Regions from separate parts of the Homo sapiens genome. Here regions 1, 2, 4 and 5 are each linked to region 3. Evidence: fine-mapped expression QTL. A gene starts in region 3. Each other region holds a variant in brackets. All regions are shown on one strand. Distances are from middle to middle. Region 1 overlaps HDLBP (high density lipoprotein binding protein). Region 2 overlaps SEPTIN2 (septin 2). Region 3 holds the start of SEPTIN2 (septin 2). Region 4 overlaps HDLBP (high density lipoprotein binding protein). Region 5 overlaps HDLBP (high density lipoprotein binding protein).

Region 1 (5,098 bases), 60 kb after region 3:
ATAAGCTGAAGTGCCATGGCATGATCACGGCTCACCGGAGCCTCAACCTCCTAGGCTCAGGCAGTTCTCCTGCCTCAGCCACCCCAGTAGCTGGGACCACAGGCACACGTCACCATGGCCAGCTAATTTTTTTTTTTTTTTTTTTTTTTTTTTTGAGACGGAGTCTTGCTCTGTCGCCCAGGCTGGAGTGCAGTGGCGCGATCTCGGCTCACTGCAAGCTCCGCCTCCCGGGTTCACGCCATTCGCCTGCCTCAGCCTCCCGAGTAGCTGGGATTACAGGCGCCTGCCACCATGCTAATTTTTGTATTTTTGGTGACCTCGTGATCCACCCACCTCGGCCTCCCAAAGTGCTGGGATTACAGGCGTGAGCCACTGCGCCTGGCCTTGGCCAGCTTATTTTTAAAATTTTTGTAGAAGTCAGGTCTCACCATGTTGCCCAGGCTGATCTTGGACTCCTGGGCTCAAACAATCCTCTCATCTCGGCTTCCCGGAGTGCTGGGATTACAGGCGTGCCATCACTGTCTTGAAAAGACGTTTTGCTCTAGTGAACTTGAGTGGCTGCTTTTATCATGTCCTAAATGTTTATATTAACTTAGCTCTGTTTCTGGGTTTTCAGTTCAGACCAGCAGGTCTTTCCGTATACTGGTATTTCCTGTGTTAATGATAATGGTTTCATGTTTAATGTCTAGGACCACTGTTAACACCTCCACCCTGCACTATTCTTTTTCAGGGTTTTCTTGTTCATTTTTGTTGGTTCTGTGTTACAACCTTTATAATCAACTGTTTGAAATTGTATTAATATTTTAAAGTTAATTGGGATGATCGCCATCTACTTAAACCTTCTGTTAGCTATTTTAAGGAGTGTTTTCTAATTTCGAATGCACATACTCCACCTTGTGTTGGGCTTGTGTCTTGCTATTTTCTTGTCCTTTTTTCTTTTTTCCTTTTTTCTATTAGAAACACATCTTTTGGCCAGGCGCAGTGGCTCACACCTGCAATCCCAGCACTTTGGGAGGCTGAGGTGGGCGGATCACAAGGTCAGGAATTCGAGACCATCGGGGCCAACATGGTGAAACCCTGCCTCTACTAAAAATATAAAAATTAGCTGGGCATGGTGGCGCACGCCTGTAGTCCCAGCTAATCGAGAGGCTGAGGCAGGAGAATCCCTTGAACCCAGGAGGCAGAGGTTACAGTGAGCCAAGATGGCACCACTGCACTCCAGCCTGACGTCAGAGCGAGACTCCGTCTCAAAAAAAAAGAAACGCATCTCTTTCATTACATCTTCTAAGTAGTTGTTGTTTGTGGAAGTTAATGTTGTTAACTTCTTGATTTCAGTCTTTTCTCTTTGCTATAAATAGAATTTCACCCAGTAGTTTTTTCAGGGTTTCTGGATATGCAGTCATGCTTCTTCCTGTCCAGCTTTTGTGGATGTTAACTCTTGTCTCCCTTTGTGGGTGTATATTCCAGTGGATGTTAAGTAGTGGTGCAGATACACTCGAACTTACCCTAACCTGGGAGTCAGGGCAACCTTCCCCAAGCATGTGATGTTTAAGCTCATGCTGTTTTAATGGATGAGTTGGTGCTGCTGGGCAGGAATAAGCAAAGATGGTGTTTCTGCCAGAATGTCTTGGAAAAATATGCTCCTTCAGAACCTACAAATATTCTTGTTTTCTTTTATTCTCTTCTTGCTATAGGCCTCAGCAACTGTTGCCATTCCCAAAGAACACCATCGCTTTGTTATTGGCAAAAATGGAGAGAAACTGCAAGACTTGGAGCTAAAAACTGCAACCAAAATCCAGATCCCACGCCCAGATGACCCCAGCAATCAGATCAAGATCACTGGCACCAAAGAGGGCATCGAGAAAGCTCGCCATGAAGTCTTACTCATCTCTGCCGAGCAGGTGAGGCCTGTGTGAGTGCCTCGTGCCCCTGCCTACCTGCTTGTGCAGACCTCACTCCCTCATGGGTTGCCGTGTCCAGTGTGGACTTCAAGGCATAATGTGGTGGGGGTGGAGGGCTTGACTCCAACTCTAAAAAGCCCTGTCTGTCCCCAGTTTGTTTTCAAAGGCCTGTTCTCATCAGATCATCCCTTCCTTTCCAGGACAAACGTGCTGTGGAGAGGCTAGAAGTAGAAAAGGCATTCCACCCCTTCATCGCTGGGCCGTATAATAGACTGGTTGGCGAGATCATGCAGGAGACAGGCACGCGCATCAACATCCCCCCACCCAGCGTGAACCGGACAGAGATTGTCTTCACTGGAGAGAAGGAACAGTTGGCTCAGGCTGTGGCTCGCATCAAGAAGATTTATGAGGAGAAGGTACACGATTTAGAGGAGGCAAATCCCCATGGGCAGGAATAGAAATGAGGATTTGGGTCTGGAGATTCAGTTAAGGCCTGGTTCTGCCCCTTATCTTTTTGTCCTTGATGAAGATGCTTATTGTCTCTACACTTGAGTGACCCGGGTGAGATCGGTGCCCGCCCCCCCTTGCTGTTGAGCATCTGCCTGGCAGTTGTCCTTGCC[G/A]TCCTGGGCCTCTGACTGTGCTGACAGGCTGCCAGCTGGGCTGCCCCGGGTCAGATGCACATCCCGGACTTGTTCACGTCTTAGATTAAGCTGTTAGCTCAGCTTAGTGAACTTTGAGGTCTGAAACGTGTTCCTTAATTGAGGGAAAGGATTGGGTGTTTTGCAGTGTTCAAGGACGAAGTTATCAGCCGGCGGGTGACTAGACTGAGGGGAAAAATCCAGTCCTTGAACAGTGAAGTTTCTGGGGATTGGCTAGTCCTGATCACTTGTTGTTCACTTCTTGGGATCAGCATCTATAGTCTGGGCCGCTTTGGCTTGCTTTCTGCAGCAGTGGCCATGCCCACCTGCCCGCTTCCCACACCTTTCCCTTTGACTGCCCCTTATGGTGCTCTTATTTAGAAAAAGAAGACTACAACCATTGCAGTGGAAGTGAAGAAATCCCAACACAAGTATGTCATTGGGCCCAAGGGCAATTCATTGCAGGAGATCCTTGAGAGAACTGGAGTTTCCGTTGAGATCCCACCCTCAGACAGCATCTCTGAGACTGTAATACTTCGAGGCGAACCTGAAAAGTTAGGTCAGGCGTTGACTGAAGTCTATGCCAAGGTAACTGCCTCCGAGCATGAAGTGTGTCTCCTTTGAGTGGAGTCCGCGGGGCCTTCATGGATGAGCTCTCGATTTGTAAATCCTGGGGCCTGGACACAGTGCAGGTGCCCAGGTTTGGGGAGAGCGTGCCTCTGAGCCCCAGGTGAGCAGCCTGGCTTTCACTGTGACACGACCTTGAGCTCTGCAAACCCATGGCTGTTCTCCCATTTTCTTAGGCCAATAGCTTCACCGTCTCCTCTGTCGCCGCCCCTTCCTGGCTTCACCGTTTCATCATTGGCAAGAAAGGGCAGAACCTGGCCAAAATCACTCAGCAGATGCCAAAGGTAAGGACACGTTTTTCACCTGTTGTATTGAATTTGTCTTGTTTTCTGTCTTTCTGTTTCTGATATTGCTTTGTTGACCTTTGTACTGTGGATGCCCTTGAAAACTGGTGTATTTTTCTGAATTAACTGGCCTGTTTGACATGGTCAACTTCCGTGTTAGCTTAAAGAACAGCAGAATAAATGTCTGTAGATGTCTGTACCATCCTTCTGGCCTTTAACCAGAGAGGATTGTATGTTCTTAGGTTTCATAAGTATCTTAAGAAACATGTCATTTAGTAATTATGGTGAAATAACTTCATGATACTTTGGCGGGCCGGGTGCGGTGGCTCATGAGGTCAGGAGATCGAGACCATCCTGGCTAACATGGTGAAACCCCGACTCTACTAAAAATACAAAAAATTAGCCGGGCTTGGTGGCGGGCACCTGTGGTCCCAGCTGCTTGGGAGGCTGAGGCAGGAGAATGGCGTGAACCCGGGAGGTGGAGCTTGCAGTGAGCCGAGATGGCACCACTGCATTCCAGCCTTGGCGACAGAGCGAGACTCTGTCTCAAAAAAAAAAAAAAAATACTTTGAAGAGCAGAACTTGTATACAAATTGTATTAAGTGTGAATTTAAAGCGTTCTCAGTTTACCAAAGGAGATTGTAGCCCCCAGGAAACATGAACAAAAAAGAAATACCAGAGAATCCAACCATCATATTTAATTCCTGTTTTATTTAAACTTTGTTTCCAATTAATGTTACAGTCCTTTTTAAAAATTAAATTTTTTTTATTTTATTCCTTTTTTTTAGTGACAAAGCCTCACTCTGTCACCCAGGCTGGGGTGCAGTAGCGCAGTCATAGCTCACTGCAGCCTTGAACTCATGGGTCAAGTGATCCGCTCGTCTCAGCTTCCCAAGTAGCTGGCACTACAGGCGCCCCAGGCTAGTTTTCGTGGAGGCAGAGTCTTACTAGTTGCCCAGGTTGATCTCGAACTCGTGGGATCAAGTAGTCCTCCTACCTCAGCCTCCCAAAATATTGAGGTTATGGGTGTGAGTCACTGTGCCCAGCCCCTTTTACTTTGTATAGCTTCATATAAGGACCAGTCTGCCTTCCTTAACTCCTTACCTGGAGGATAATAAACCAGGAACTCTGGCAGCCTTGTCTATGTCAAGCAAGTTACTTTACCACCTTGGTACAGCTATACGAGTTTTAAAATTCCATCCGTGCTCTGTCTCATTCTTTATGCAACTCAAGAGGACCAGGCCTTGTAAAAGTTCAGATGGTGGAGGAGCATGTCGCATGTCGCATGCTTTATGTTAGTGGCTTCTGTGGGGCAAACGGTGTCCTTAGTGAGAGGCAGGATTATTCGGCCACAGTATTTAGTTTCCTGACTATGGCTCCCTAACCCTCCCTTTCAACTTTGTTTGATGGCTGTGGATATGTCCCTCCCTCCCTCACATCTATGTGAAGCAGTTTGGGATCAGAAGCCGCTCCGAAGAGAGCTCCCACTGGGAGCTCAGGGGCTGCAGCTGTGCCATTCTGTTTTAGCTATCTCTTTGGTTTTGGTGTGGTAGGTTCACATCGAGTTCACAGAGGGCGAAGACAAGATCACCCTGGAGGGCCCTACAGAGGATGTCAATGTGGCCCAGGAACAGATAGAAGGCATGGT
Region 2 (5,105 bases), 22 kb before region 3:
CAGACATTATTCGGAACTCTGGGAATACATAAGTGAACAAAGCAGATTCCTGATCTCAGGACCTGGGGTCAGGGGTCAGGAGAAGCCAAAAAACACGCTAGAGAAATACTTTATGCAGTGTGGGGGGAGTGCTACCAGCAGAGCAGGGGATGGAGATGTGAAATCTTGTGTGCAGCGTTGGGCTCAGTGAGGGAGTTCCCCACACAGGTATCTGAGGGAAGACTGTTCCAGGCAGAGGGTATCACTAGCAAAAGCAGCGAGCAAGGGGCAAAGAAACAGTAAATTTGGTCAAAGAAGAAAAGGGGCCAGAGTAAAACAAAAAGTAAGCCAAATATTCATCAGCAGGAAACTGGACAAGTTAGAGTATATTCATATGGTGGAATGCTGTGCATCCAGGAAGAATTAGGATACAGTATATATATGAGGATGCTTCCAAATATTTTTAAATAGAAAAATCAAATGGCAGAATAGTATTACTATGTGATTTCATTCTGCAAAACCAAAAACATAAGCTATGTTCTAGAAGGATATATACTTAACAGTTGTTCTTTCTGTGGGTAATTACAGAAATTCTTTTTTTTTTTTCTTGAGACGGAGTCTTGCTCTGTCACCCAGGCTGGACTGCAAACAACCTCTGCCTCCTGGGTTGAAGCGATTCTTTTGCTTCAGCCTCCTGAGTGGCTGGGACTACAGATGCCCGCCACCACGCCCGGCTAACTTTTGTAATTTTTTAGAGACGGAGTTTTGCCATGTTGGCCAGGCTGGTCTCGACCTCCTGACCTCTGGTGATGTGCCTGCCTCAGCCTTCCAAAGTGCAGGGATTACAGGCGTGAGCCACCACACTCGGCCTAGAAACTCTTTTATTTTAAAAAATATATGTATATTATATTTATATATATATAATATATAAAAATGTATATATAATATGTATATAAATATAATGTATAAATATAATATTTATATATATTTATAAATATATTTATATATTATATTTATAATATATATTATATATATAATATATATAATAAATATATGTACAATTATATATATTATATATAATATATATAATATATATTATAGATATATTAAATATATATATTTTTATATATATTATATATTTATTATATATATTATATATAAATAATATAAATATAATATGTATTATATATAAATAATATAAATATAATATATATAAACAATATAAATATATTACATATAAATAATATAATATATATAATATATTATATAAATAATATAAATATAATATATATTACATATGTAATATAAATAATATAGATATAATATATATGTAATATATATTATATATATTTATTAATTATATATTATATATATAAAATATATATATATATTTTTTTAGAGACAGCGTATTGCTATGTTGCTGAGGTTGGCCTCCAACTTCTGGGCTCAAGTGATCCTCCTGCCTGAACCCCCTGCTGTATCCCCCTACCCTGCCCCAGCAACTGTGATTACACGCACAGATCGGTATGTTCATTTAGGGATTTGTATTTTTATGCACGTACCGGTATGTTCAGTTAGGGATTTGTATTTTTAGAGTTTAGCATATATAAACTATTTGGACTTTCTTAAGGAGCATATAATCAGAACAAAGTAAGCAATTTAAAAATATATAGCAGAGAATCAATAAAGAGGCTTTACAGACATACACGGAAGAGGCACTAAAACTGGGACACCACAGGAGCTGCTGGCGGGTGAGAGGCGCTTCGCTGGCTGACAACTGCTATGTTTCCAAACAGAACAGAGAACCAGTCTACTTAGATACATCCTTGTATGGGTCATTTGCAGTAAAGAATTTAGGTAAAATAACAAACTTCATGGAGAGATCACATTTCTATATTTGAGTCATTTAACTCCCATGGAAGGTACTTGTGTGTAACCAACTGCTACTCATCGAGGGCATTTTAAATATAAGGAGAATTTAAAGAATAGAAATTTGATACCTTCATGAAGGCAAAAATTAAAATTTGTAACCATCAGGTTCTCCTTGAAAACCACCACTAAAATGCAGGAAAAATTCTCCCGCCCTGCCTCCCGACACCTGAGCAGACTGAGCGTGGGAACACACTCCTTTCTTCATCCCCATGCCCCCGAGTCGCACCCAGAGGGAGGGCAGGACGCCAGCCTCACTCACCCTTTTCTTCAGCCGCTCCCGTTCCTTCAGGGTGAGAGTGTCAGCTTTTGCAATGACAGGCACAATATTCACCTTGTTGTGTATTGCCTTCATAAACGCCACATCTAAGGGCTTAAGTCTAAAATTAATTTTAGAATTGTCACTTATTTAAAAAAAATACATACAAAACTCTTCTCTCTCAAATTATCTTAATTCTTATATTAAAATACACAGTTTGGGTAAAACTTACAAACCCATGTAGTAAAGCATTTCTCCACGATAAACAATTACTTACCCATGTCCAAAAGGTGAAATAAAGTAAAAGCAACAATGCACCCTATTATCAATGATGTGCCGCCTGTTCAAGCCGCTCTCGTCATGCAGGTACCTCTCAAATTGCTCATCAATATAGGAGATAATTGTCTTAAAACTGAGAGAAACAGAAACATTAACAATAATCATAGGGTATAAAACAGGGGGTCCCTGACTTCAAAGGGAAAACAAGTGCCTCCGCCCAAATATACATAATTTAATAATTCATTTTCAAGATGAGAACAGAAGACTGACTTTTAGATTTGGCAAATGGAAGTTTTTGGAAACTATGCCAAGCATAACTGCCCCTAAGTGCTGAGAGTCAAAAGCCTGAATGGAATAGGTTATGATGCACCTGAGAGAGGGCCAGTGTAGACAGGGCTGCCAATTCGTTCTTTTTTTTTTTGAGACTGAGTCTTGCACTGTTGCCCAGGCTGGAGTGCAGTGGCGTGATCTCGGCTCACTGCAACCTC[T/C]GCTTCCAGGGTTCAAGCGATTCTCCTGCCTCAGCCTCCCAAGTAGCTGGGATTATAGGCACACGCCACCACGCCCGGCTAATTTTTGTATTTTTAGTAGAGACAGGGTTTCACCATGTTGGCCAGGCTGGTCTCGAACTCCTGACCTTGTGATCAGCCCACCTCAGCCTCCCAAAGTGCTGGGATTACAGGCATGAGCCATCGCACCCAGCCAGGGCTGCCAATTCTTTTCAGGAACGTGACTGTGAAAAGGGGCAGAGGAACAGGGTGGTAGAGAACATGGGTCAAGAACAGGTTTATCTGAGCTGGGAAACAGCATTTAACTGAGCTGGGAAACAGTACAGCACTTTCACATGTAAGAAGGGAGAAATTCCTAAATGTAGGAGAAAGATAACAGAACCTTCCCCTTTTCATCTAGTGGTGGAAACCTGATGCTTTATGTTGACAGGAATAGAACCAGGAGGGAGTTTGTACAACAAAAGTGGCATTCTTTGCACGGTACAGGTGACAGACTGCTCTATCTTCTACTTCTTCATTTCCTTATTTGTGAAAATGATGCCAATGAGCAGTCATTTACAGACACTACGACTCAACCCACTCTCTAACAGGTTTCACTTCCTTCCACATAGAAAGGATGTACTACAGTATCTCGGTCACCAACCACGGCTCAAATCCAGGTGTTTCATTTATACTAGCAGTCTATGGATGACTGGCTTTGCGATCTCAAATTACAGTAGAGTACCAGAAAAAAATTACTCTCTATAAAATTCCTTATTTAAAAAGTCAACATTTAACACGCTTTAAATTGTCTAGGTGTTTTATTATATACAGCAATCCCAAACTTAATAATCACTCATTAACACTATCTATAAATTTATGAAGTATATTAAGTAAACAAATGCAGATCCCTGGGCATGGGGGAGCATACCAATCTCTGCAGTTGATAGCGTCACCATAGCCAGGGGTATCTACCACTGTCAGGCGTAGCTTGACCCCTCGCTCTTCAATTTCAACAGTTGAAGCCTCAATCTGGACAGTTCTTTCAATTTTTTCTAGAAAAGAAACAAACTTAATAGGGAATATAAGCAGCATGTGAAGAGGAAAGCTCACGTTCTTACGACAGGTGACTTCAGAGTCTACTGCCTCTCTACAGAGGTAGGTTCTCCAAAGATACCATGGGGATTAAGAAAAAAAGATCCCAGAGAAGTCAGAAAGGGGAAGGTTAAAGCTAAGATTATTGTGCTACTGGGGAAGGTTAAAAACACAAATGTTAAAAATTATAATTTCTGTTCCTGGGAAAAAGAAAGCAATTTACGAATTCATTTAAAAACTGAATTCAAAAATATTCTGAAAGGGCTACATATTCTTGCAGCAGCCCAAGTCTTAGGCTCTCACTATGTGTGCCTATTTCATTCAACAGTCATTTGTGGATGCTGGTGTCCTGTGCTGGAACTTTCTGACAGTAGATGAATTCGAACATCTATCCTAGTAATCTTCTAGTTACACAGCATTTTTGATGTAAAACATTCTCACTTAATCCTTCCATCAAATATTTAATATAGGCAGAAACTACTTATTACATTTTACAGACAAACTCAAGAGAGGATGGATCCATGGATACGTGTCAAAGAAAGTCTACAACCCAAATCCAAGGACCTCGGTGCAGCACACCTACCCCATAAAAGTGTTTTCCTTGTGTTCAAAGCTGAACAAGAACAAACAAAACACACAGCTAAGACATAAAATATTAATTAGGCAGTCTTCAGCATCTTTCATGTAGAATTACACTTACAGTAACATAAGAATGTTTTTACCTGCTGCTCCAGGTATGACTCTTTCTGGGTACAGATCAGTTAGGAATAGGCTGTTTATGAGAGTCGATTTTCCTAGACCTGATTCACCTTTAAATAAAAAGAAAAACCTTGTCATGACCTTATTCATATGACACCATTCAATCGGTTAAGTGTTTACATAAGGCCTGGTACTGGGCTAAGTACCTCACAAACATCATTCTGTGTTTAGTACCTACAGTACTACTATGTTTGCAGTATGATCTTTGAGGGTACTCAAAGAAACTCTAATTTGCCCAAGGTCAGAGTACTATCCAGAGCAGGGCCAAGATTTGAATCCAGGTCTATGAGACTACAGAACTTGAACATCATATAATTAGA
Region 3 (5,105 bases):
GTGCAACATAGAAATACCATAGAGCACCTCTCCCGCACCTCCACAGAACCCCTCAGCCTCACTGAACCCTGTGCACACATATGGGAAAATGGAGAAACTATTTGTCTTAAACTGACATTTCAACTTTGCTTTGACTTTACCAAGTTTCTCCTGCCATCTTTTTTTTTTCCTGTTTTTTTTTTTCTGAAACATAACTTGGATCCACAATGTTTTCTCTCATAATTTATTAACTAATGTGAAATGGAAGGTGAAAGAGGAATTATGAACCTCTGAAGCACATGGTTTTCAGTGAGAAAGCCTTGATCCAGCAACACAAACTGCCAAGCACTGTGATTAACTTAAACACTGGGTGCAAATTGGACCAAAAATGTAGTCAAATGAAAATTTTGTTCCTTCAGATCGTGTTTATTCCACATGCCAGAAGTTGTTTAAAGTTCTTTAATCTTGACCCACAGCTTATTTCTTCCACAGAATAACCCCAATACACATAAAAAACCAATTTTCGCAAAACAAAAGATAGAAGATGAACAACATCTGGCGATGTAGAACCCGGAAGGTCCATGATCTTATTCAAAGCATCTGGATTCTTTGGATTCGGGGAAGGTCCACGTTCAGTATACCCACATAACACTCCTAACAGGGACTGGGGCAGGGATAAGTGGCATGTATGACTACTAACAGAACAGACAATACAAATGGCCTTACCTCACCTCTGCTGCCAAATGAGTTTTGGTGTCCCCATTCCTCCAGACAAAAAAAAAAAAAAAAATACCCACAACTTCTTCTTTTACAGCAGTTTCTGTATGCTGGTATTGGGGATAAAAAGGGGCCCTGAATTACATTTATGAATGATAGAGGGAAACCCTGGCCCCTTTCCCTAGGTCACCTTGCTAGTTTAAGAGCCAGTCAGAATGTAAATCTGATCTAATTAAAACGCTCTTGTTCTTTATTCCTGGCTGTGGCACTGGTGAGAGAAATCAAGGTGGAAGTTGAGGAAAAAAAATCAGGACAACCTTTATAGCTAATGAGATCAATGCCAAGATTATACATAACAGTACACATCATGAGTTAGGATGCTGGGTGGTGCAAAGAACCCATTAATGGGAGCTATCAAAAATCACTGAAAACAATGAGGCTCAAATCAGAAGTATCAAGAATCAGCTTTCATGACCCCTACACCATGATGTTTTTCTTTATGACGGCAGAACTATTTTGAAACATTAAATATATCGGCAGGCACTGTGATTCAAAAAGTATTTGAGAACCTACTAGGTGCTAGACACCAACCGAGGCAATGAGTATGGGTGACAACATGTGCCCTGCCCTCACAGCACCAATAGTCCACTGGACAAATACCATCTGGAACATCAGGTAAACACCTAAGCCTGTCTGGAGGAAATCTAATTTGGGCGGAATCCCACAAGCACAGACTAGGTAAGGAGAAGGCAGTTAAGGTGGGAAGTAGCCAGATTTAAGAGTTTGGGCAATGGCCAAAGGTGCAGAAGTTTGAACTACAAGAAGTTCAGTGTAGTTGGTTCGTGTGTTTCCGTGGAGAGAGGACAAGGTCTGGTGGCACTGACAAGAATTAGACCGAAAAGGTAAAAAAGCAAGCCAGGTTTGTCTGGGCCAGTAGGCCAGGTCACAGTTGGGACTCCACTGAGACCACGGAAGCCACAGGTTTGCTCCTCATCCCCGGGCCAACTCGGCGGCCTCCAACCCTATACCCTACCCCCTGCTGCCTGTCCGTGCCTCGCTGGTGCAGACCTTCGTCGCCTCTCCTCGCCGAAGGTACCCGCAGACAGGGCCTAGTCGCTCTCCCCTCGCTTATCCACGGCATCCAGCCGATGGGCTTGGAGGTTTGGGGGCTGGCCAGTCCTCCACGCCTCAGGGAGGAAATGGCACCGTTAGAAAGACAAGATGGCCACACAAGCTCTAAGTGTTTGTCGGGCCTAAACCTGTATCCTCCCTCCAAGCACCAAACCTCCCGACCTCGACCGCACTCGACGCCCCGAGGCCCAGCACCGACGACAGTGCAGAGGAATTCCCGCAGGGTCAACAAGGGGTCACCGGAATCCCCACTCCCGCGCCCGGGCCTGCCCGTGTCGGAGCCACTGTCGCCGGCACTAGGACCGCCCGGGACGGGGGAGCCCACGATAAGTGCCGAAGAGCCTGGGCTCGGCCGCCCCTCCCCCACACCGCCCCGCCGGCACCCCAGAGCCAGCCGACCACCGCCCGAGAGTATGGGACGAGCGGCGCGTCCCCCGCAGCTCCTCGGGAGGGCCGGCCCACAACTTGTGCGGGGTACACCGGCGAGACACTCACCCGCCAAACAGCCCGAGAACAGGCGCCGACCGACCGCGCCGCGGACCCGCCCAGCGCTCGCGGTCCGCTCACAGCCCGCCCCAGCCCGCCCCGCCCCGCCCAGCGCGCAGGCGGATTGCGTCACCGCGTCACCCCGCCCCTTTGCCAACTGCTTCCTGGCTCAGTGCGACCTGGCCTTCTTCCCCTCCCCCATGCGGCCGGCTTCCGAGTGCGCAAGCCCAGAGTCGTCCGCGTTGTCCGCCTCTGCGCAAGCGCCGTGCTCCTCCCACGGCAGTTGGCCATATAGAGGCTGGGGGTGGGGGGGGAGGTCAAGCGTAGCCTCTTCTCCTTTACCAAGATGGCGGCTTGTCCCTGTTTCGCCACAGTTCCTACCTTATGAGCTCGGTTTTCTTATGCTTATAAGAGTGGAACAGGTAATGAGAATCTTCGCCTTGCGGTGGGTAACTGGAGTGGGGGGAAGGCCGTTTGTTAGAAGGAGACAAGTGCCCACTGAGGAGGAGAGAGGCGGTCGCGGGAGGGCAGGTGGTGGCGGGAGTGCGGAGCGATCACGGGGAGGGGGAGCCTTCGCCTCTCCTCCTGTCCTCCAAGAAGATGGCGGCAGCACCGAGCTGGGGCGCCGAGTACGACTGGGCGGGGGACGGCGAGCGGCCGCGCGAAACTCGTCTAGCCCACCACCGCCGCCGTCTCGATGATCGGGGGGCCTCTCTGGGATTGGCTGCGCGCACGTCACGTGGGGCCGACGGGCCCTGCGCAGACCATCGAGTCGGGCGTCCCTCCCCGGGGACGTGGCCTTCCTGTGCCCGGGCTGGGGCCCGCCGCCCCGCGGGGGAGGGCGGAGCTGGCGCGGCCCCTAGCTTTCTCCTTCTGGTGTGGGGCCCGAGGTGAGACCTGGGGAGTGCTCCGCGAGCCCACGAGCAGCGACGTGGCTCGGGGACGGGAGGGTGCCGTGCCTGGCTGCGGCCTGAGCGGGATGGGCGCGGGCGGCTCCGGCCCGCGGGTTGTGCCCCGGCCCGGGGTGTCCTTTCCTCCCTCCCGCGTGGCCTGGAGGCACTGCAACTGTTCGAGACTCACGTCAAGGCTTGGCGCAAATACCCCTCGTTCAGGAAGCCTTCCTAGGTTTCCCCCGCTTAGAGGAAACACTTCCTGAGTTCCTAATGGCTGACCCGCATGGTGTTGGGAACCTGAGCCTTTCTGACACCGTGGCATGTTGCTAGGGTATTTTTGTGCGTAGCTCCTTTGAAAAGTGGTTAGGTGCTCAAGGCTAGCTGCTACATATCCTCTCCATTCGACTTAAAAAATGAGAGGGTCAGACTTGACATGGTGTTTGGACGCCATGTAAAATCGAAGGAAGTCGACTTGGGCTTTGCTTATTAAACAGTGCCTATTATGGTGAAATTAAACGGCTGAAGGAATGTGGATGAGTCGTAATCTTAAGGAACATGACGATTTGCCCCTCAGTTTTGCGTTTTATGTCCTCAGATTCATAGCTACCTATACCCTAAGCCCTCAATCAATGACTTCACATTTATTTGGTGTCTGCTTAAGGATAGTCACTTTCTTAGCAGCTAACTTCCTTAAAACCCTATTAAGATAGGTTAAGTCACAATTAGGGTTTTGTCTAAGGCTCCTGGTAGCGGCACATTGCATAATAAGCTTAATGTTCATTTAGGGAAGCAAATCTGGGATGCTGAAACACTGGATGAAACGTAGTGCTTAGGTTTATATTTTGATTTTTTGACATGTAAAAGTATCCCTAGGCTAAATTCATTAAGTACACATGATATTAGGATGCTTGGCAACAGTATTTAAAAATAGTTGAAAAGGTGTTTGGGTAAGAATTATTTCCATCATTTGGATTACCGAATCTCTGAGTCTGAAACATCAACCTATCAAGTTTTAGACTTGGGGAAAATGGAGCTGGAGCCTACTGCCTCAAGTCTCAGGGACAGCGTTTGAAACCCCATTAAATAATTCATCATGAGGATTAAACTTTCCTGTTACTGCTATTAGTTTTGCTTGGTGCCAAGCACTGTTGAAGGGACTTAGCTCATCTTATCAGGAGTCAAATTAACGTCATTCGGGTAAAAGTGCATTGAGTGTAAGGAGAGCACCTCAAAGATATAGTTGACCTATATCACGTCCCTCAGCGCCACTAGGCTTACTTGAATCCCTGTTACAGTGTCCTCTCCAGTGGGCAAAGCTAACTTCTCAGTGGCCTGGTGGGAGAATTTCTTCTTGAGTAAATACGTATTTTTCCAGGTTTTGTTGTTTTGGCCTTCCAGTTGTCTGACTTCAGCCTCATGACCTCACTTCTTCATTTCAATTCAAAAAAATATTTGCTGGAAATTGCTGTGTAGGGTTAAGGGTTCTGCAGATACAAAGGTTGAGAGGATATAGTCTTTTCGACCAGGTGCAGTGGCTCACGCTTGTAATCCCAGCACTTTGGGAGGTCGAGGCGGGTGGACACTTGAGGTCAGGAGTTCGAGACCAGCCTGACCAACATGGTGAAACCCTGTCTCTACTAAAAATACAAAAATTAGCCTGGCATGGTGGCGCGCGCCTGTAATCCCAGCTGCTCAAGAGGCTGAGGCATGAGAATCGCTTGAACCCAGGAGGCGGAGGTTGCAGTGAGCCGAGATTGTAGCACTGCACTCTAGCCTGGGCGACAGAGTGAGACTGTGTCTCAAAAAGCCAACAAAAAAAGAGGATATAGACTTTTCTTTTCCTCAGGCAGCTTGTGGTCTAGTGTGAGAGACTTATTTGTAGAAGAGTAATTACATTAT
Region 4 (5,105 bases), 28 kb after region 3:
CACGTGCAGTAGCTGGAGTTTCCTTTTTATCTAATACTTGAGTTTCCCACTGCCATACTCACCCCACGTTGATGCCTAATGTCTTCTTGAGGTTTCCTTTAGAGGGCACTCCTTACCTTTGGTGCCAGCCATTCTGCTATTCTGATCCTACTTCCCCTCATTACTGATCTTCCTTCTCTGCCATCCTGACCCCTTCCTGTCCTTGGATGCCTTTGGAGTTGCAGAGAAGCTGTCTTTATCTTCCTGGTGTGATACTTGTTTTCTAATAGTAGGAAATAGTGTTTTCTTGTTCTGCCCAGTTTTCTCTCTTTATAGATGAGACATCTAAGTTCCTGCTCCCTGGATGTATGTCAGTTTTTCTCTTACATGGTAATGTTCTGATCTGAGTCCGGTATCTCCATTGTCTAACTTTGCATAGAGGAACATACCTGTGCTTTGGTGGGGACGTTGTGCTTGTATTCGTGCAGTTTAATGTTGAATTAGCTCTTTGTGGAGACAGTTATATAAGTAAGCGTTTCTAGGGAGTCTTTATATCCAAAAGTGAGGCTTAATCTCTGAAGAGTAGACTGATAGGAAGAGAGTACCTGGAGAGATGATGCAGTCCCACCTTCTCATGAGACAAAGGAGGAAGCAGGCCAAGTGAAGAGGGTGATGTGCCAAGCAGTGTCAGCAGCAGATCGCACATTGGAGTGCCACATGCTCTCCACCCTTGAGAGGAGAAAACCTGAAGACTTGGGTTTTCCTGATGTGTGTTTTCTTGTTTGTAGAAAAGTATTGTTTCTATTTGGATAGGACTGAGCCCAAGATTAATCTTTCAGATTCTTAAGTATTTTCCACCCATGGCGTTAGCTAGCTTTGTATCCATAACAGAGTTCTTTATAAACATGAGCTAAGCTAATTCTAGCTCATAGAACTTTCCTATGTAAATTGTAGGAAGGAAAAAATCATCAAGTGTAAATTGTTGCCCTGGGTCAAACTTCAAATTATTTTGTTTCTTGTAGTTTAATGAGATTTATAGTGAGGAGATGGAAGGGATTTTTAAATTGCAGGACTAAAGGGGAATGGCCCTTCCTACAGCCATTCTGTTCCCATCCCCTTCCCAGGAACACCATTACAGTTGGGGTGGGGGCCTGCGTGGGCTTCAAGCCCTGGTGAGGAGTATGTGTGTGTGCAGGAGCTGCCATGAAACACCTTTCAGCGGCTCAGGGTGGCAGACTAGTGTTACCATGGCAGTTAGAGACATCAGTAAACCCATGGGTCATACGGATGCATTTCCACCTAGAAGCAGTGGTTTGTTTCTTCAGTGAGTCAAAGAAACTTAAGATGGAGGAGACCCTAAGGAGTCATGTAAGTTAAATGATCACCCAGTGGAGAGTACACTTCACAGTGGGAATAAGCTCTGCCCATTTTTTTTCCTAGGTGCTAATTCAGGAAAGCATGCTCACTCTTAGTGATCCTTTTCTTCATGTTGAGATGAAATGTGTCTTCAGAATTGTTCTTAGTTGTGCAGGCAACTGGACAGAACTCAGTCCCCCTTTAAATGCTCTCCACATGGTAAAGACAGCTCTTATGTATCTTGTTCTCAGTTTCCAAGGCTTGAATAGGTTCATGTAAAGTCATCACCACTTCCTCAAAAGGAAATTAACAAAAAAAAATTTTAATTCAGACGTCTTGCAGATAACGTGGCAATTGTAATGAGAATAGCACAGCAGAGAAAATAAATTTTGTGACTCTGTTTTTCACTGATTTGTAGTACCTGGTGATACTTAAGTGTCCTCTTTTCCCTCTCCAGGTGGAGGTATTTTTGTTGAAAAGTAAAGAGCCTCATATAATACAGAGCTTTCCCCTTCTGCTGATAACTCTCACAAACACTTAGCATATGTCCATCCATAGTTTCCTATTAAAACACACTTTGGGGGTATGTGGTGTAGGAATATGTGCCATTTTTCATGGTCTTCCCTCCCGTCTTCACATTCTACAGCTTCACAGCAGAATTGTCTTTTCAAGTCCATCTTTTACCCAGCTGTTCATGTTGATGCTTGTTGAGGACTGGGCTCTGGACTTCCTGTCCTTTTGCTATTCTCAATGACTTGAGTTTCCTTCTAGAGAGGTCTTATGCATGTACAAACATGTATATCTTTTAACACGACTGGTTACATATCAACGTAACACATAGCTGCAGGCCAGGCGCAGTGGCTCACACCTGTAATCCCAGCACTTTGGGAGGCCAAGGCAGGCAGATCACTGAGGCCAGGAGTTCAACACCAACCTGGCCAATGTGGTAAAATCCTGTCTCTACAAAAAAATATACAAAAATTAGCCAGGCATAGTGGCGCACACCTGTAGTCCAGCTACTTGGGAGGCTGAGGTGGGAGAATCGCTTGAACCTGGGAGGCAGAGGTTGCAGTGAGCTGCGATTGTGCTGCTGCACTCCAGCCTGGGCAACAGAGTAAGACCCTGTCTCAGAAAAAAAAAAAAAAAAGAAAGAAAGAAATAGGCCGGGCGCGGTGGCTTATGCCTGTAATTCCAGCACTTTGGGAGACAGGCGGGTGGATCACGGTGTCAGAAGTTTGAGACCAGCCTGGCCAACAATGTGAAACCCTGTGTCTACTAAGAATACAAAAATCAGCCAGGTGTGGTGGCGCACGCCTGTAGTCCCAGCTACTCGGGAGGCTGAGGCAAGAGAATCGCTTGAACCCAGGAGGCGGAGGTTTCGGTGAGCCAAGATCACGCCACTGCACTCCAGCCTGGGCAGTAGAGTGAGACTCTGTCTCAAAACAACAACAACAAACTGCCTCTTCTTGTTCACTGACACTGGGTGTATGGTTAAAGCCCCCTTAACTGACCTGTTTTGAGGCACAGAGGTTTATTTAATCACCAGTCATTTGATACAGGGTGAAGACCTATTTGAAATGGGACTGGCTGGATTCTACATGTTTTCTTTTTTTTTTTTTTTGGAAACAGGGTCTTGCTGTGTTGTCCAGGCTGGAGTGCAGTGGTGCCATCATGGCTCACTGCTCAACCCCTGGGGCTCAGGTGATCCTCCCACCTCAGCTTCCACACTGAGTAACTGGCACTACAGGTGCATACTACCATGCCTGGCTAATTTTTATTTTTATTTTTATTTTTTATTTTTTGGTAGAGACAGGGTTTCACCATTGTAAACCCAGGAAATCTGACAAGTCTCA[G/A]TTAATTTAGAAAGCTTACTTTGCCAAGGGTGAGGACGCGCACCCGTGACCCAGCCTCAGGAGGTCCTGATGACGTGTGCCCAAGGTGGGCAGAGCACAGTCTGGCTTTATACATTGTAGGGAGACATGAGACATCAGTCAGCATATACAGGACGAACATTGGTTCGGTCTGGAGAGGCAGGATGGCTCGAAGCAAAGGCAGGAAGACTCCAAGTGGGGAGGGGACTTCCAAGTCACAGGCAGGTAAGAGACAAATGGTTGCATTCTTTGGAGTTTCTGATGAGCCTCTCCAAAGGAGGCAGTCAGATACGCATTTATCTCAGTGAACAGAGGGGAGACTTTGAAGAGAATGGGAAGCACGTTGGCCCTAAGCAGTTCCCAGCTAGACTTTTCCTTTTAACTTAGTGATTTGGGGGCCCCAAGATTTATTTTCCTTTCAGACTATGTTGCCTGTGTTGGTTTTGAACTCCTGGGCTCAAGCGATCTACCCACCTCAACCTCCCAAAGTGCTGGGATTACAGGCATGAGCCACCATGCCTGGCCACATACTCTCTTCTTATGTAAATGAAATTGATAATATGTCGTCTAGGATTTTCAGCATTCATTTAAGTGGAACAAAAATTTAAGAAACTCATAATCAGTGTAGATTCTCTGAGATTTTAAAGGTTTTCCTCCATTTGACTTTTTCTTTTAAACAAACAGGTCTTGCTCTTTTTCCCAGGCTGGAGTGCTGTGGCACGATTGTAACTCACTGCAGCTTCAAATTGGGTTCAAATGATCCTTCTGCCTCAGTCTCCTGAGTAACTAGGATTACAGGCACAGGCTAATTGTTTTTATTTTTTATTTTTTTAAGAAATGAGGTCTCACTTTGTTGCCCAGGCTGGTCTCAAACTTTTGGCCTCAAGTGATCCTTCTGCCTTGGCCTCCCAAAGTGCTAGGATTATAGGCATGAGTCACCATGTCCAGCCATAATTTTTTTAAGGCAACTTGTTTTTCTTGAAATTTCAGTGTGGTAAATTTAATATCCATAGATAAATTTCTCTTCACTCCTTCATTATTTTGAATTATTTCTAAATGTAGTTACATTAACTAGTGAAACTGGCATAAACAGGTTTGAGAGCAAGTAAAACTGAGTCTTACTAAGCACACATCATCACTGGTGGGGATCGGTGTTCAGGGCACACTAGAAGGCACTCTGCTCATGACATCAATTAATATTTTACTGTGGGGGTGGAGACTTGGTCATTCATCAGGTCGTTTATGGAGGTCAGTGATAGTGCTTTGTGTTCTGCCACCCTTTGTTTACCCAGTCCCGGACTGAACCAATGCAAATGTTTAATCTTCTGACTCTACAAAAATGCTACAGTGCACATCAGGCACACTGCAGAGACACTGCAGGTTTGTGATACCACCACAAGAAAGCCTGACATCCCAATAAAGCACATCACATGAGTTTTACGTTTCCCAGTGCATATAAAAGCTGTAACATGTTTAGAAAAACAATGGTATATACTTTAATTTAAAATAATGGTTAAGGCTGGGCGCAGTGGCTCAGGCCTGTAATCCAGCACATTGGGAGGCCAAGGTGGGTGGATCACCTGAGGTCAGGAGTTCGAGACCAGCCTGGCCAACATGGTGAAACCCCGCCTCTACTAAAAGTACGAAAATTAGCTGGGTGTGGCGGAGCACACCTGTAATCCCAGCTACTTGGGAGGCTGAGGCGGGAGAGTCACTTGAACCCGGGAGGTGGAGGTTGCAGTAAGCCAAGATCAAGACTGTGCCACTGCACTCCAGTCTGGGCAACTGAGTGAGACTCCATCTCAAAAAATAATAATAAAATATTGGTTAAAAAATGCTCATGATCATTGAGCCTTCAGCAAGTCTTAATCTTTTTGCTGCTGGAAGGTCTCGCTTTGA
Region 5 (5,105 bases), 40 kb after region 3:
GAAAGCTTCCTTACAAAAGCATTTGGAGACCCGCCTTTTTGTTGTATTATTTTGTTGTTGTTGTTTTTTGGTTTTTTTTGAGATGGAGTTTCACTTTTGTTTCCCAGACTGGAGTGCAATGGCGTGGTCTCGGCCCACGGCAACCTCCACCTCCCAGGTACAAGCGATTCTCCTGCCTCGGCCTCCTGAGTAGCTGGGATTACAGGCATGCACCACCACGCCCAACTAATTTTGCATTTTTAGTAGAGATAGGGTTTCATCATGTTGGTCAGGCTGGTCTCGAACTCCCAACCTCAGGTGATCCGCCCGCCTCGGCCTCCCAAAGTGCTGGGATTATAGGCGTGAGCCACCTCGCCCGGCCTTGTTGTAAGTTTTATATTTGTTTCTTTGAAGATTGGGGAAGGTTGGTTATTGAAACTATATTTCTAACTCAGTTTGGGTAACTTATTTTTCTAGAATTTGCCCATTTCATCTGTTTTCGAGTTTTTGACACTACTCTTCTCAATAGAATTCTTACATGATTTTTCAAAGTCTCCATTTTAGCTGTAGTTTTTGACCCCCTTTTAATTCTTAATATTGCCTACTTATACTGTCCTTTTTTCAGGAATCATTTTTGCCAGAGATTGAACTTGTCTTTTAAAAAATTTGGATGTAGGTTTTGTTTATCCTTTGTGGTATATGTCTTTTAGTTCATTAATATCTTATCTTTATTTCCTTCTACCTTTCTTTTGTTTATTCTGGTGTTTTTTGTTCTAGTTTCAGTAGTGGATGATTAGCTTATTTTATTTTTTTCCTCTTCACTAATAGGATGGCTTAAAGTTACAAGGCTTTAAGCAACAATCTTGTTTCATTCCACAAGGTGGGATATATAATTGCTTAATGGCTTAGTTTTAAATGTTTTCAGATTTCTTCCTTGTTCCATGAGTTACTTAGAAGCAAGTTTTAAAACTTATATAGTCTTTAAATTTTTAAGTTGAGTTCTAATTGAGTGGTGGTCTGAGAATGTTACTATGATTTAATTCTTTACTATTTGTTTAATTTTTTTTTTTTTTTTAGCTCCTGGCCAGGTTTTATGGTTTTTTAAAAAGGTGTCACTTTTAATCATGTGTTCAATAAAGTAGATTTATTAATTGTGTTTGCATCCTCTATACATTTTCCAATCCCATAACCTGTGTTACCAAGAGAGTTGGGTCAGTCTCACCCTTTAACCTTGGATATATCAATTTCTCCTAGTAACCTTCAGTTTTTACTTTATATGTTTTGCAGCTATGTTATTAGATACATGTAATCAGAGTTACTGAATTTTTAAGTTCTTGACCTTCTCTGTTCTTAATAATGATTTTTATCCTACAGTCTGTGTTATCTGAAAATAATATAACCAACTTTCATATGGTTAGTATTTGCTCGGAGTACTTCTTCCATCTCTTTATTTCAGCCTATATGTCTGTATGGTTTAGGACTGTTGAATGGCCTATAGCTGCTGTTAGAGTTGGTCAGTTTAGTCTGTTAACACGTATTTAGATTACTGATGGGTTTGAATTCATTCCTCTCATCAGTTTTGTGTTTTATTTACCTTGCTTTTTCATTGCTTCTTTTACTTTTCTTGCCTCCTATTCTTTTTTCTTGTTTTCTCTCTTTTCTTTAACAATTATTAATACAGTATAATGTAACCAGTAATAATGTACATCGTAATGAATACCGCTGAACCTACCACCTAATCCAAGATCTAGAACATTGCCAATAACTTCCATTTGAGTAAGAGTTTAGTTTGAATGTTAAAAACTCTTTGTTTTTCCTAGATTGTCTTTAAATTTTTAACATTCATTCTCAACAAGGGCTAAAATTAGTATCTCTAGCCTCTCCCCAAATAATAAGAATCTTGAAACCTTGCAACTTCATATCCCCCTTCCACCTTATATATTATTGCTGCCTAAGCATTTTAATTCTGTCTTTTATTTTATTTTGTACTTGCATATTCTGCTTACGTACCTATCTATAATTTAATTCCCTTCAAATTTTATTGTTGATATTAGTATAGGGTCACCACTTGTTTCACTTTATCTAGGTTGCTGGTTTATCAGTATTCCTTCTTTCTGGTCTCTCTGGCTTTCATTTTCTTGCTGAAATATGTCCTTTAGTAGGTCTGTCAGCAGGGATCTATTGGTAGTAGTTGCTTTATCTTTGAATATGTCTATTCTCATTCTTAAATGAAAAAGAATTCTTAAATCCAAATTGACAGTTATTTCTTTCGCCATAATTTATATATAGCCATTATCCTCTGGTATGTATTGTTTTAAGTGGTCTGCCTTTGGTCTCATAGTATTCTTTATGAGTAACCTGTCTTTTCTCTCTAGTTGCTTTTAAGGTCCTGCTCTTGTCTTTGGTGCTCTGAGGTTACTCTGTAGTGTGTTTTGATTTGGATTAGTTTAAATTATCCTGCTAGACACCTTCTCTGTCTTTTTTGGGATGAGGGAAGAATGTTGTATCATTAAATCTTAGAATTTTCTCAGCTATTTTAAAAAATGTTTCTTCTCTGTTCTTTGGATTTTTTCTTTTCTCTTTTTGTTTTGGAACTCCAGTTATAGACATATGTTAGAGTTTCTCATTCCATGGTTCTTAGCTCTTTCATTCGTTCCATCTCTCGATTTTTTTTCTAAAATGTCACCTTTATGTCTCTTATGCTTTTTTATTGTCTCAATCTTAGTT[C/T]TGTCTCCCGAAGTTCTTGAGTCTAATCCTACTTCTAATCCATCCTTCCTTCTTTTTGAGCTTTGGGCTTTTAGCCTCTCTACCATTTGTGCTGATCTGTGGGTATCCTTTTTAGCCTGGTATGAGGTTTATTCTTTCCTGAGGCGGGGTGGGGGGGAATTGCTTTCTGTTTTGTTAATATCTCAGTTTGGGCTAGGGGTTCCTGGACAAATGGGCTTGGTTGTAGAGTACTAGTCCATTGTCCCTACAGCTCAAGAGATGCTTCTGTCTGCCAGCTCAGGATAGTCAGAGAAGGCATCCTGTAGTCCCCTCTACACTAGTGGGCTTTTCTTCTTCTTTTTTTGATCTACCTATCTTCTGGTAAGTGTAGCCCTTTTGGGGATCATGACTTTATGGAATAGGAGGGTATCTCTTCTCACCTCCTACCTTGAGCAGACCCAAACTTCTCCCCCGTCCCTTTGAGGGCTGAAAACTCAAATGTCACAGACAGACGTTCACACTTCATTTGGTCTGAATATTGCTAGCCATGGAATTTCTAAAATTTGCTTCTACGAACTATTTATTAGTTTCAGTGTGCTAAGCCTGCTGGGAGGAAATGCTGGTTGTGAGCATCAGCACAGAAGCATTCTGGACGGTTATTAGCACAAAGTTAGCATATGATTTTGTAATCTCTTCTGCTAACAGTGTTTTTTAAACTAACTCTTTACGGTGTCCTGTGTACTAGGTACTGTGCCTGTGCTGACTTCCTAGCTTTATTGGAAGTTCCTTGACAGCGGACCGAATCCCTACCCGTTACTCTTTCTCCATCTCCCTCTGCAGTGCTGAGCCCTCAAAAACAAAACAGCAACAAAAAACACACTTGCACTAGTTGCTGATTGGTTAATCCCCACGGAAAGGTTACCAACAAACCACAGCAGTGACACAGAAGGGAATGCCTATTTCCACATCTAGGGAGGCCCACCTGCCCAGTTCCGTGCTGCTGACTTAGAGCACGGCTTTGCTGATGATATCCTTGGCTCCTTCTCTGCGTCAAGCCGCAGGTGTTCTCTGCCTTCTGTGATTCTGCTCCCCTCCCTAGGTGGTGTCATGAAGTGCATGGTATTTCTGCTGGCTCCTAGGCTTTTCCCCTGACCTTGCACATACAGTTGCCTGCTCCACTTCCCCACCTGCCCAGTCAGGGCATCACACCCCCTTATCCATCCAGTCTTCCTTGAATTTTACCCACCTCAGTGAGGGCAGCTCTTCCCAGTCACTCAGGCCAAGAACCTGTGTCTTTCTTAACTTCTTTTACACCCCTCTTCTGGTCAATAAGGAACTTCTTGGTGCTTCTTTCTGAATATATACCAAATCTGGCCATTTATTTCCTCCATTATGCCCACCATAATGCAAGCCATTGTCATCTTTAGACTGAACTATAGTAGGCCTCCCCTGCCCTCCCCTCCCCTGCCACTTAGTGTCAGTGTTCCACGAAAAAAAAAAAAACACGTCTGATCCTGCCTTCTGCTGCTTGCAGCCCCCACCCAGCTCCCACCATCCTCAACAGCACCCGTGGCCTGGCTGCAGGCTGTGCGGACCTGACCCCATTCCCTGGGTAAGGCTGGGTGTGCCCCTACCTCTTCCCCTGTGTGGGACGGTCTTGTCCCCAGATACCTGTAGTTGATCCTGTGCCCTATGCAGGATTCTGTTGACCTGCGACTTTGCCAGAGGTTCAGACTGACATCTCTACAGATTGCTCGACTCCCTTTATACCCTTAAAAGAAACAGTGGCAGTTATCACTTAGTAAACACAATGGATGCAGAAGTGACAAGTCCTTCCCGGAGGGTGGAGACCCCGAGAGTAGGGATTCCGTTCCGCCCAGTCCTGCGTATCCACCGTGGGCTCAGAGGCCACACACCGGTTCTTTTGCGTGTATACATCTATGTAGAGATGGAGCCATAAGTAATACACGCTTTAAAGGAAGGGGATTTTACATTTTGGGGGGGAGATTAAGTTGATTGCCAAGGAATCGGGTGGGGATAGTTTATAAAAGTGAGGGACATAAGGAATAGGCACGCAGGAATGAGGGAATGAAAGCCCTGGAGCCGCCTGGGAGCCTCACTGCGCTGTAGGACCTCGTGCCAGTGTGGCCATCCGTTTACGATGTGGTGGGCATCCTTTGAGGTTTTTCTTCTGATTTTGGGGAGGTGGGCGGTACTGGTGACATCTGCTTCCAGAGCAGCCGTCCTTCCTGCTCCCTTTCTGGTCTTCGGTTGTTTCCACTCGGGTTCTTGCGGGGCGCGCTCCCTCTGCTTTCTGGAGGTGATTAATTTCCCAACTCCTCGGCACCGCCTTCCCCACCCGAAAAAAGGATGCAGAACCACGCCTGCAGTTGGGTGGGCCTCCCGGGTGCTGGGCGGCC

What was found. PIP is the estimated chance that this variant, and not a neighbour inherited with it, causes the effect. A credible set is the group of variants that fine-mapping cannot tell apart.
Region 1: its variant is the best candidate, but not a certain one, in a credible set for the expression of SEPTIN2 in monocytes (Quach 2016, PIP 0.82).
Region 2: its variant is the best candidate, but not a certain one, in a credible set for the expression of SEPTIN2 in nasal epithelium (TOPMed, PIP 0.50).
Region 4: its variant is the best candidate, but not a certain one, in a credible set for the expression of SEPTIN2 in whole blood (TOPMed, PIP 0.61).
Region 5: its variant is the best candidate, but not a certain one, in a credible set for the expression of SEPTIN2 in lung (TOPMed, PIP 0.85).

Annotation. Positions count from the first base shown.
Region 1 is chr2:241,253,403-241,258,500 of GRCh38, reverse strand. HDLBP (high density lipoprotein binding protein) reads left to right here. Exons shown (of 28, transcript NM_005336.6): 6 at 1,695-1,901; 7 at 2,102-2,317; 8 at 2,921-3,127; 9 at 3,343-3,450; 10 at 5,004-5,098. Among named protein-coding and RNA genes, the nearest start is that of HDLBP-AS1, 16 kb to the left of the region's middle. The variant G/A (reference allele first, on the strand shown) is at 2,522.
Region 2 is chr2:241,334,856-241,339,960 of GRCh38, reverse strand. SEPTIN2 (septin 2) reads right to left here. Exons shown (of 13, transcript NM_004404.5): 4 at 4,749-4,835; 5 at 3,863-3,986; 6 at 2,445-2,579; 7 at 2,171-2,288. Among named protein-coding and RNA genes, the nearest start is that of FARP2, 19 kb to the left of the region's middle. The variant T/C (reference allele first, on the strand shown) is at 2,935.
Region 3 is chr2:241,313,200-241,318,304 of GRCh38, reverse strand. It overlaps SEPTIN2 (septin 2), which reads right to left and starts at 2,380. Exons shown (of 13, transcript NM_004404.5): 1 at 2,323-2,380. HDLBP (high density lipoprotein binding protein) reads left to right here and starts at 2,633. Exons shown (of 28, transcript NM_005336.6): 1 at 2,633-2,735. RefSeq lists enhancers at 1,183-1,907, 1,858-1,917, 1,908-2,632, 2,558-2,657, 2,678-2,727 and 1 more and silencers at 2,108-2,457, 2,998-3,377.
Region 4 is chr2:241,284,798-241,289,902 of GRCh38, reverse strand. All of the region lies in intron 1 of HDLBP (high density lipoprotein binding protein), which reads left to right. Among named protein-coding and RNA genes, the nearest start is that of HDLBP-AS1, 15 kb to the right of the region's middle. The variant G/A (reference allele first, on the strand shown) is at 3,189.
Region 5 is chr2:241,272,936-241,278,040 of GRCh38, reverse strand. All of the region lies in intron 1 of HDLBP (high density lipoprotein binding protein), which reads left to right. HDLBP-AS1 (HDLBP antisense RNA 1) reads right to left here. Exons shown (of 2, transcript NR_168372.1): 1 at 4,357-5,105; 2 at 1,102-4,038. Among named protein-coding and RNA genes, the nearest start is that of HDLBP-AS1, 3.3 kb to the right of the region's middle. RefSeq lists a silencer at 4,984-5,105. The variant C/T (reference allele first, on the strand shown) is at 2,707.